Linked DNA regions of Homo sapiens. The protein of the gene in region 3 purifies or fractionates together with the protein of the main gene of each other region. This does not show direct contact. Each region holds a gene or a part of one and is shown on either strand. Other genes may lie near its edges.

Evidence for each region.
Region 1: the proteins of NCF2 (region 3) and TBC1D4 purify together in Homo sapiens (affinity purification with mass spectrometry; one large-scale study listed by BioGRID and IntAct). This does not show direct contact.
Region 2: the proteins of NCF2 (region 3) and BPGM purify together in Homo sapiens (affinity purification with mass spectrometry; 2 studies listed by BioGRID and IntAct, with this or other methods). This does not show direct contact.

What each region holds. Positions count from the first base shown.
Region 1 is NC_000013.11:75,475,670-75,479,169, forward strand, and holds part of TBC1D4 (TBC1 domain family member 4), read right to left. Parts: intron 1-3,500.
Region 2 is NC_000007.14:134,670,695-134,674,425, forward strand, and holds part of BPGM (bisphosphoglycerate mutase), read left to right. Parts: intron 1-3,731. UniProt on the Homo sapiens protein: Plays a major role in regulating hemoglobin oxygen affinity by controlling the levels of its allosteric effector 2,3-bisphosphoglycerate (2,3-BPG). Also exhibits mutase (EC 5.4.2.11) activity.
Region 3 is NC_000001.11:183,569,912-183,573,642, forward strand, and holds part of NCF2 (neutrophil cytosol factor 2), read right to left. Parts: intron 3,382-3,731; coding exon 3,274-3,381; intron 929-3,273; coding exon 869-928; intron 1-868. UniProt on the Homo sapiens protein: Subunit of the phagocyte NADPH oxidase complex that mediates the transfer of electrons from cytosolic NADPH to O2 to produce the superoxide anion (O2(-)).

The DNA.
Region 1 (3,500 bases), on a different chromosome or scaffold from region 3:
TTCCTCACCAAGCAATTACTCATTCCAAAATGAGAAAAGGGCATGTGAACAGTCTCTGCCTTACTGAATGGTGTTATTTCTCAGGCTGTAAATCAAGCTTTAATTTTTTCAAAAACTATCATAATCTGAAATTAGGATATATGGGTTGCGTATCACTTATCCAACATACTTGGGAACAGAAGTGTTTCAGATTTTGAATTTTTTTTTCAGATTTTGGAATATTTGCATATACATAATGAGATATCTTAAGGATGAGACCCAAGTCTAAGTATAAAATTCATTTATGTTTCTGGCTGGGTGCAGAGGCTCATACCTGTAATCCCAGCACTTTGGGAGGCCCAGGCGGGCAGATCACTTGAGGTCAGGAGTTTGAGACCAGCCTGGCCAATATGGTGAAACCCCGTCTCTACTAAAAATACAAAAATTAGCTGGGCGTGGTGGTGCACTCCTATAATCCCAGCTACTTGGGTGGCTGAGGCAGGAGAATCACTTGAACCTGAGAGGTGGAGGTTGCAGTGAGCCGAGATCGCGCCACTGCACTCCAGCCTGGGCGACAGTGCGAGACTCCACCTCAAAAAAATAAACAACAACAACAAAAAAACTTCATTTGTGTTTCTATACACCTTATACACATAGCCTCAAGGTAATTTTATACAATATGTTTAATAATTTTGTGTGTTTTGACTGTGATCTCATGAAATCAGGTGAAGAATTTTCCACCTGTAGTGTCATGTTGATGCTCAAAACGTTTCTGACGTTAAAACACTTTGGACTTCAGATTTTTAGGTTATCTGTATTCCCCTCAAAATGAACTGTTTATTCCACCTGCAGAACTTAAAACTTTTGGCTGAAAGGCAAAGTTTTCATTCAACATTTGCATGGTCTTATGATGTCTGGCAGAATAATGTCTATATCAGGGAAAGGACAGGCAAATCATTAAGCTAGAAGATGAAGAGCTTCTTAAAAATATTCCAGAGTCAAATATTATTTCTCCTCACATTCCACTTGAACTTTCAAGTCTGAGAAAGACTACAAAAATATCCAGGGGAACAGAAATGGTCATACAGCCAACCAAATGAACCAAATAACTTAGCACAGGGTTTCTAAAACTGTGGTCACCCGGCCAGTAGTTTGAGCATCACCAGAGAACTTGTTAAATCAGAAATTGAGGGTAGGGTCCAGTGGTCTCTTTTAAGAAGCCCTCTAGGTAATTCTGACACACACACTGAAGTTTGAGAATCTCTGGTTTCTGATAATCAAGCCCTGACACTGAACACCTTCAATTTTCAGCTTAGGGCTCCTATCATAATGTGCTCCATTGTGGCTGGGAGTCTCTGGGCTATGTTTGTGCCTTTCCGCCAGATATTGCAGTCAAGATTCTACCACAGAGCCAAGGCAAATTAACCTCCACTTCAGACTGCAAGGAGGAGAGAGAATAAAAAATGATTACAAAAAAAGAGATAGATCTATCTGTCCACAGAACAAACTTCTTAGAAAGCACAGAGAGGTGAAATCTTCCAGGTTTCAATTTCTCTGGTATTCTTACTAGTATATTCTCAAAGCTACTAACCATCAACTTTGAAAAAGAACTGAAAAATGACCTTCTAAAAATATATTGACAAAAAAACTGGTTACGTGAATAAAGCTCAGATAGTAATACACGTTTTTAAGAGAACTGAGAGTTGGGAAAACACTGGCATTAAATTCCTTTTTTTAATCTTAAGAACACAATTTGTAAAGTCTCTTTAAAATCATTCTTGCAAGCTTCAGTAAATAATACACAAAAACAACCAATAAACATTATAACAATCATGTTTTTACCTTTTAAATGATTGTTCATCCTATAATTATAAAACATAATGATGCTTCAAAACTCACAGGCAAATGTTAATTAAAAATTAACATAACAAAGTCTCATATTTTCAATAACAACTCCTGCTTTATTTTTTATTGTAGTAATGTATGTATAACATAAAATAACTTTTTAACAGAAAAATTTGGGTAATGCCATACAGACTCTTTTTGCAAGTGGATAAATATTTACAGAGTATTAGTGACCTATCCTAGACCTTTGGGAGAGAATCAGATATTCTTGTTTCCCCAATCAGTTTAAGTCTGTAATTCACTTCATGCCAATGGGATTAAGCCCTTTTCCCAGTTCAAATATTCAAGTTTAGCTGAAATGTGCTAAGCCTGACATTCCTCCTGTATAAGACTACATAGGCTTGACTAGAGACAGATCTGCATTGGCATACATTTCACCCCCATCTCCATTTCTCTTTGCACCTTGGAGAAACAGTGGTGCATTGAGCCATTCTGGTTGAATGCTTCTCCTGACACACATCCTTAAATTGACTCTGACCCAAAGGGAGGTGTGGAGCCAAGAGGGAACACATCACTGTGGCAACTCCCCACAACAGACCCCCAAGCGATTAGTACAGCACTCCCAGCTCTAAGGTCAAATGTAGATCCAACTCCAATATGTGAGTAGATACTCTTGAAAACATTATCATTTTATATTAGTAACCACAATCCTCCAACTCGGTGGCTCTGCATGAACACAAACTTTGCCATGGTGACCATATATCTCGGTTTGTCCTCAACAGTCCAGGTTTATTACTCACAGTGCTTGTATAATTATTAGTGGTGCCCCTTTTGACAATAAAATTGTCCCATATCAAACAATAAAGTATACGGTCATCCAACAGATAGGGCCATTGCATTAAAGGAATAGGCATGACAGACAAACCACAGACAAGTATGTTAGGGGATGTTTGCAGGTCTACTGCTCTAGGCTACGTTTGTAGACTTTATAGACTCTGTCGAGGACTGAGGGAAACACTTAGGAGACTCTCTTAACAATGATCTTAAGTCCAAATAAATAATTCTCCACTTCAAATATAGAACTCAGAACAAAGCAAACAGCAGGTCTTCCTTCTGATTTCAAGGGTCCCTAGAACTATCCACAGCCAACTCTGCATGAAGCATACTGCTGGATGATAATATGTTGAACTGACCCCTTTAACATGTCTAGCTGCAGAATCAACACTTCTGGGAATTTTTCTGCTAAATTCTTCAAAAAGGATGGTCCCAGCTTCCCCTACTATGACAGCCATATCAAATGAACCTGGATGCTCTAAAGGAAATACAGCAAACAGCACATAGTGTCAATGACTGCGCTTGTCCACTCAACAAATATTTATGCCAAAGATCAAAAGTGGCCGCTCATGGATCTCTAAAGCCATCTCTCAGATGTGTATTGTTTGGCCCAGATAGGATTCTTAAATGTTTACAATATTTGCCAGTACTTTAAAATGCGGGGTCATATATAAAAATTCAGATTTCCACTCTCTCTTGGGAAATCAGCAGCTCTAGCAACGCTAGACTTGCATCCTATTCATGCAATTTCCAAGTGGAGCTAAGTAGCACCTTGAGAAAGGCCACCCACTATCCAGTCCTCCATGGTCCTCACTCAACCCTCTTCTTTGTTATTTGAGTTT
Region 2 (3,731 bases), on a different chromosome or scaffold from region 3:
CTTATCACAGATTGTCGGTGGGGTTTGAATTGTGACTTACTTGACCAGGAGAGGAAAGTGAGGAATGAATGGGTGGCACCTTATTAAATGAATGAGTTGACTGGAGTTGTTTCCCTTTTTTTTCTAATTCCAAAGAGTATACACTACCGAATTGGGGTTTCTTCTTTCCTTCTCATCCTGTAGCGAATCTTTCTGTCTCTCTGACCATCTCTTCTGGTTTTCTAAAATTCAAAGATTTTGAACACTTTGGAGAAAATCAAAGAACATCTAAAGCCATTTAATTTGAATTGTTTATTTTATTGGCACTAGATGTAAACAGCTTTTTGTTCAAGGCTAAGATTCTTTTAATTCTCCTTTTTTTTTCTTGGTAAGGTCATAGGAGAGCACAGTGTTTAATCAAGGCTTCAACAATAAAAGACTAGATTTAATTTGAAAACCCAGAGAGTTCGAATTTATTCAATTCAGGTTTGCACCTAGGGTTCACTAAATCAGGTCTTGTTCATGGTACAAGGGATATAGCACCTATATGTGAATGAGACACACAAGGTCCTTTTGTGGAGCTTTTAACCTCTTTCTGAAATTTGTCTGTACTGTACCTCTGACAAAGTCCTTAGGGTGTTTTCATATATAGGCTTTATGTTTTAGGATTTTTAAATTAACATTTTGTTCTTTTTTTTTTTTTTTTGAGATGGAGTCTCGCTCTGTTGCCCAGGCTGGAGTGCAGTGGTGCAATCTGGGCTCACTGCAAGCTCCACCTCCCAGGTTCACGCCATTCTCCCACCTCAGCCTCCCAAGTAGCTGGGACTACAGGTACCCGCCACCACGCCCGGCTAATTTTGTTTTTGTATTTTTATTAGAGACGGGGTTTCACTGTGTTAGCCAGGATGGCCTCGATCTCCTGACCTCGTGATTGCCTGCCTCGGCCTCCCAAAGTGCTGGGATTATGGGCATGAGCCACCACACCCAGCCTAACATTTTATTCCTTATAGCCTTTAGTTATATGTAAAAAGTAGATTCACATAATAAATACAGCTGTAATTACTTAGTGGATCATATTACTGAATAATTTCTGGACCCTAGCAGCCAAACCATAAAAGTGTTACTTACAGTTGAATAAACATTTACTAAATCTTGCAGTGGGTAAAGCACTGTGTTGTAACAGCATGGGTGATACAGAAATGGATCAAACATTGTTCCTGCTCTCAAGGAATTTATAATCCTGGTGGGAAAAGTGAGCATTTGCACAAGCACCTCTACCAGGAGGTGCTTTAGTAGATGTACAGTGTACATAACAGTTTGTCTTTGGTTCCTGTTCCTGCTATGGTGACTTAGGGGAGGGGGTTGGTAGGTGCAAATTTGACTTCCTGAAGTTATTCCTCTATGCAGAAAATAAAGTTGTTTGACTTTCTCCCCAATTTTGGCCTTGAGCTACTTCCTGGACTTATTACCCCAAACTTTCATTATTTCTTCCTTAAAATATCCCATTATTTAAATTGACTGCAGTTAGCTCCTAGGTGCTTCTACATGAAGATTCGATACTTAAAGGCAGACTTTAAGTATTTAACACAGACTTAAAGACTTTAACACAGACTTAAAGACTTCAACACAGACTTAAAGGCAATGGTGGACCCTTAAAGACAAGGGTAGCTGTGAAGGGAAACACCACTGAGTTCTCACCCTGCACCTGCTCCTCTCCACCCTACTGTAGAACACAGTGCCTTGCCCATTGCAAGAATTTAGTGAATGTTTGTTCAACTGTAAGTAACACTATTATGGTTTGGCTGCTAGGGTCCAGAAATTATTTAGTAATATGGTCCACTAAGTAATGACAACTGTATTTAACTCCACACCACTGTGGAGAGGGGTAGGTACAGGGTGAGAACTCAGCAGTGTTTCCCTTTTCAGCCAACCCTGGAACAATATGGATTTGAACTGCATAGGTTCACTTATACATGGATTTTTTCCCAAAACAACTTGGATCAAAAATACTACACTTGCTAGATGTGAAATCTGTATATACATAAGGCTGATAGGACTAATTCAGTTTGGTTTAATATAGTTCAGATGCATTATTCTGGCCTTAGGAGCTCTGCCTGCTTAACTTTCTTAGGATGATGAATGTAACTTATGCCAAAATTGAGTAATGAGTAATGGCTTCACTGTGGTTTTTCCTAATTTGCTGTTTTAAAATTTTAGTTGGCCGGGCGCGGTGGCTCACACCTGTAATCTCAGCACTTTGGGAGGCCGAGGCGGGCAGATCACGAGGTCAGGAGATAGAGACCATCCTGGCTAACATGGTGAAACCCCATCTCTACTAAAAATACAAAAAAGTAGCCGGGTGTGGTGGCGGGCACCTGTAGTCCCAACTACTCTGGAGGCTGAGGCAGGAGAATGGCGTGAACCCAGGAGGCGGAGCTTGCAGTGAGCTGAGATCGCGCCACTGCACTCCAGCCTGGGCGACAGAGCGAGACTCCATCTCAAAAAGAAAATAATAATAATAAAATAAAATAAAACAAAATTTTAGTCACTTAAGTCTCATTGACTGATTATTAACCAGTCTAAGTATTTTAAATATTTGTAAGTAATTAGTCTGCTGTGTGAATGGCTTGAGTAGTCATTAAAGTGGAATGTTGATTTTATTTATTTATTGGAAACATTTCTATTTTTGTTGAACTCTCCTTCCTTTGTAGTTGAAATATTACGGCGGCCTTTGTTTATTTGGCTCTTTAATTTGGTCCCACACAAAAGGGACCAAACTTGAGAGTGCTGCTATTAAACAGGGGACCTGTTGGATCCGGTTAGATCTGAGGCCATGGTCAAACAAGTGAATCCCATGTATACCCAAGCCCCTTGCTGAAGACCTGGAACTCGTTTCTAAAGTCACAGACAACAACCCCTAAACATGGCCCATCATAATCGCAGTGTGTTAGCTGGGGATCAGACAAACTTATTCATTCCCTTTACCAGTCGTGGGAACACTGGATGGCATCAGCAGATGTCCATTTAGGACCCAGCCTTTCACGAGGGCAGAGCATTCATATAAACATTCTTCTCTCTCCTCCTCAGTAGTCGTGGAAATAACCATGGATAAGTCACCTGACCAGGGTTTAAATCCTGGGGATTTGGTAGTTTAAAAAGGTCCATTTTTACTGCCTTAATAGTCCTGTGAGTAGAGCAGGTTTTTATTTAACCACTCTGGATCTGTTTCCTTTTTTTTTTTTTTTTTTTTTTAAATTGAGACAGAGTCTTGCTGTGTCACCCAGGCTGGAGTGCAATGGCACAATCTCGGTTCACTGCAACCTCCACCTCCCAGGATCAAGCAATTCTCCTGCCTCAGCCTCCCAAGTAGCTGGGATTACAGGCGTCCACCACCACGCCTGGCTAATTTTTGTATTTTTAGTAGAGACAGGGTTTCACCATGTTGCCCAGGCTGGTCTTGAACTCCTGACCTCAAGTGATCCACCCACCTCAGCCTCCCAAAGTGCTGAGATTAGAGGCATGAGCCACTGCGCCCAGCCCTGTTTACTATTTTTTAACATCTTTATTGCGTTATAATTCACATACTATGCAATTCGCCATTTAAAGTATACAATTAAATGGCTTTTAGTGTATTCACAAAATTGTAAATCCATTACCACAATCAATGTTGGAACATTTTCACTACCCTAAAAAGAAACCCAGTGCCCCTTAGCTGTTATCACCCCCCCAGTTCCTCCCCTATTCCACCCAGC
Region 3 (3,731 bases):
CACAGGATCCACTGACTGGGCAAGAATCTCCTCCCCTGTTCTACACTGAATACCATGGAATCCAGTTACCTGGGCTGCATTCCCCTCATGGCCTCTGGCTGAACTGAAGCTCAAGGGACTTCAGCAAGGCTTTCATCAGCTTTATTGTGAAGAAAGAGATCAAGGAATCTAGATCTGGAACATACCTGCCCCTGCTCAGAAAACCGCCCTCTGCTAGTGCTGACCAACACTCTTGCCCATCACAGGTTCATTGCCACAGAGTTCGTATTTTCCTTAATGTGTTTTCCCCTCTTTCCTTCACAAGGAAGCTCTGTGTGCATTTCTAGATCCACTATCATCCAGTTCATCTGAGCTCACCTCTCCAAGCCCAGCTTGGGCAGAAAAAGGGTTCACTCTCAGTGCGCTGCCTGTGTTCCCGAAGGAAACCCCTGCACATGAGCAGATGGGTAGAGCCAGGAGAGCCCAAACCTCAGGCCCAGGCCCCACAGGGTTCCCCACTTGCCCCTGTACTCAAGAAGAGGCTTTGTTAATAAGCCTTCCATAGCTTGTGTTTCAGCTTCCTGAGAGAATAGTTGAGGCTTCAGAGAGAGGATCAGCAGATCTCTTTAGAGATGTGAAGACCGGCATTTGTGGGGAAGCAGGAGAGTTAGCTTCAGAGGACTTGGGGTGAAGCCTGACACTGCCTTATTTCCTCACCAGCCATGGAAACCAGGACTGAGAGAGGGCAGGCAGATCCCTCAGCTGCACTGAGGGCCACTTGAAGGAGCCCTTACAATCAGGCAACTCAGCACACATAGTCTCTCGAATTGAATGCTTCACAGAAAGCTCTCGAGACCTAGGTCCATGGAGAAGGTCAGGACTGCCTTACCTGTGGTTGCAGAGGGGCAAACCCAGAGAAACTGTCTTGATCCACCACAGATGCCACGACCTAAAATCAAGGACAGGAGGGTGTGAGGCTCTGCCAGCACTGTTTCCATTCTTCTGGGTCTCCCTCTTTGCTCATGCCCTAGACCTGTTCTTACGTGAGCCTGGTTTCAGACGTGGACAGTAACTAAGGATTAGATTCCTGAGCCTCTGGATTAGGATTTCAGCAACTGAAGAAACGAGCATTCACCCCACCCCTGCTAACACAGGCTTGCTTTCTTCTCTCTTAAAAAAGAAATGTTTTTAATTGAGGTGCAATTTGTATAACATCAAATTATCTTTTTTTTTTTTTTTTTTTTTGAGACGGAGTCACGCTCTGTTACCCAGACTGGAGTGCAGTGGCGTGATCTCAGCTCACTGCAACCTCTGCCTTCCAGGTTCAAGTGATTCTCCTGCCTCAGCCTCCCGAGTAGCTGATATTACAGGCACCCGCCACTGTGCCCGGCTAATTTTTGTATTTTCAGTAGAGACAGGTTTTCACCATGTTGGCCAGGCTGGTCTCAAACTTCTGACCTCAGGTGATCTACCCATCCAGCCTCCCAAAGTGCTGGGATTATAGGCATGAGCCACCACGCCCAGCCCAAATTAATCATTTTAAAGTGAATGATTCAGTGGCATTTATCACATTCACAATGCTGTGCAACTACTGCCTCTCTCTAATTCCAAAATATTTTCATCACCTCAGAAGAAAATGCTGTACCCATTAAGCAGTGTGTCCACACTCCCCTTTCCCCTAAACTGGCAACAACCGGTTTGCTTTCTGTGACTGACTTGAGCCCTCTTCTCTGAGTTTTAAAAATCAGATGTAAAGCTAGCTTTATTCACAAATATGCTTAAACTATAGATAATTTTCATCATTCATTCATATAATCAAAACATTTTTGCTGAGAGCTGTTATGTGTCTAGCACTGTGCCAGGCTGTGAGGACTCAGTGGAGATCAAGCAGACATGGTCTCTGCTCTCTCAGTGCTTAGAGGCTGCACCAGATATTTCCTATAAACGGAATTGTACAACATGTGGCCTTTCGTATCTGGCTTCCTTCACATAGCATAATGTTTTCAAGGTCCATCCATGTTGTATCATGAATCATACTCCATTCCTTTTTATGGCTACGTAGTATTCTGTTGCATGGATATATCACATTTTGATTACTCATTCATCAGTTGATAGATATTTGGAGGGCTTCCACTCACCCAGGCTTTCTTGACCTCTGCTGCTATGCTAGACCCAGCTACCCGACCACTGGGCAACTTTAGCCCTATGAATGTGTCAAGTCAAATGTGGTTTTGGAAGGGCACTGCTGACTCACTTCAGACCATGTCTGAAAGAATTTAAGACTTGGATTTATTATTATTATTACTATTTTGAGATGGAGTTTCATTCTTGTTGCCCAGGCTGGAGTGCAATGGCATGATCTCAGCTCACTGCAACCTCCACCACCCGGATTCAAGCGATTCTCCTGCCTCAGCCTCCCAGGTAGCTGGGATTACAGGCATGCACCGCAGCACCCAGCTAATTTTGTATTTTTAGTAGAGATGGGGTTTCACCATGTTGGCCAGCCTGGTCTTGAACTCCTGACCTCGTGATCCACCTGCCTCAGCCTCCCAAAGTGCTGGGATTACAGGCATGAGTCACCATGCACAGCCAAGACCTGGATTTAGAAGAAGTCCAATTTAAGACATAGTCTAAACATAGGGCTGTGGAAGTGGGGAAAGACTCCTCAGCCCACTAAAACGTGAACTACAAGGAGCATTAATCCAAGAGGATCCCATGCTGATCTCTTTCCCTAACATGTTCTCTTCATATTTATTTTTATTTTTTAGAAACAGAGTCTCAATCTGTTGCCCAAGCTAGAGTACAGTGGTGCAATCATAGCTCACTGTAGCCTTGAACTCCTGGGCTCAAGTGATCCTCTCACCTCAGCCTCTCCACTAGCTAGGCTGGTCTCAAACTCCTGGCCTCAAGTGATCCTCCCACTTCAGCCTTCCAAAGCACTGGGATTACAGGCATGAGCTACCCTGCCTGGCCCTCTCTTCACATTTAGTGAGCTCCTCATGGCTGTGTTTTCCCTCCATTGGCTCAGTCCCTAAGACTCAGCATCCTGTGAGTAACCCTGTGGCTCTCACCCAGGGTCGAGCTGGAAGGGAGAAATGGGAGCAGCTTGGAGAAAATAAACTAGACATGGTTGCCTATCTTTCAGCCAAACCTCTGTCCTATAAACAAGTCTCTCATTGCCATCCCAGGGACAGAGCCACAAGGAGGCTACCCTCTTCTCAAGAGTCCCTCCCACCTTGCTCCACATGGCCCGGGCCACAGGAGACTCAGGGGAAGCTGAGCAATCCCACCTACCGTCGCCTTGCCTAGGTAATCCTTCTTGGCCAGCTGAGCCACTTGTCTCTCATTTGGTCGAAACAGCTTGCCCACAGGGATCACCACTGGCTCATATAGCTTCTGCTTCTGTAACACAGAAAACGTAGCATTCCCTTATGTGAAAATGGGGGTGACGATGCTTGTCCTGCCTCCCTCAGTGAATAGATGCAAGAATTCATTGAGATAACCACATAGAAGCCCTTTTCCAAATGAGTGTTGTCATTCCTCTAGGGTGTTAAGGTAGGAACCCTTGGTTTCAATACCACCTTCTGCTGCGAGGCCACATGGACATTGCTGCTATTTGTTGCTATTCAGCACCCTCTTTTCCCAGAGGAACTGCTCCTCTCCCACTCTGTGTGCTGTCCGTGGGGTTCTCTCATGGTGTAGAGGGCACCACCACGACAAGGCTGGCCCGGGATCAAGCAAGGCTCATGACA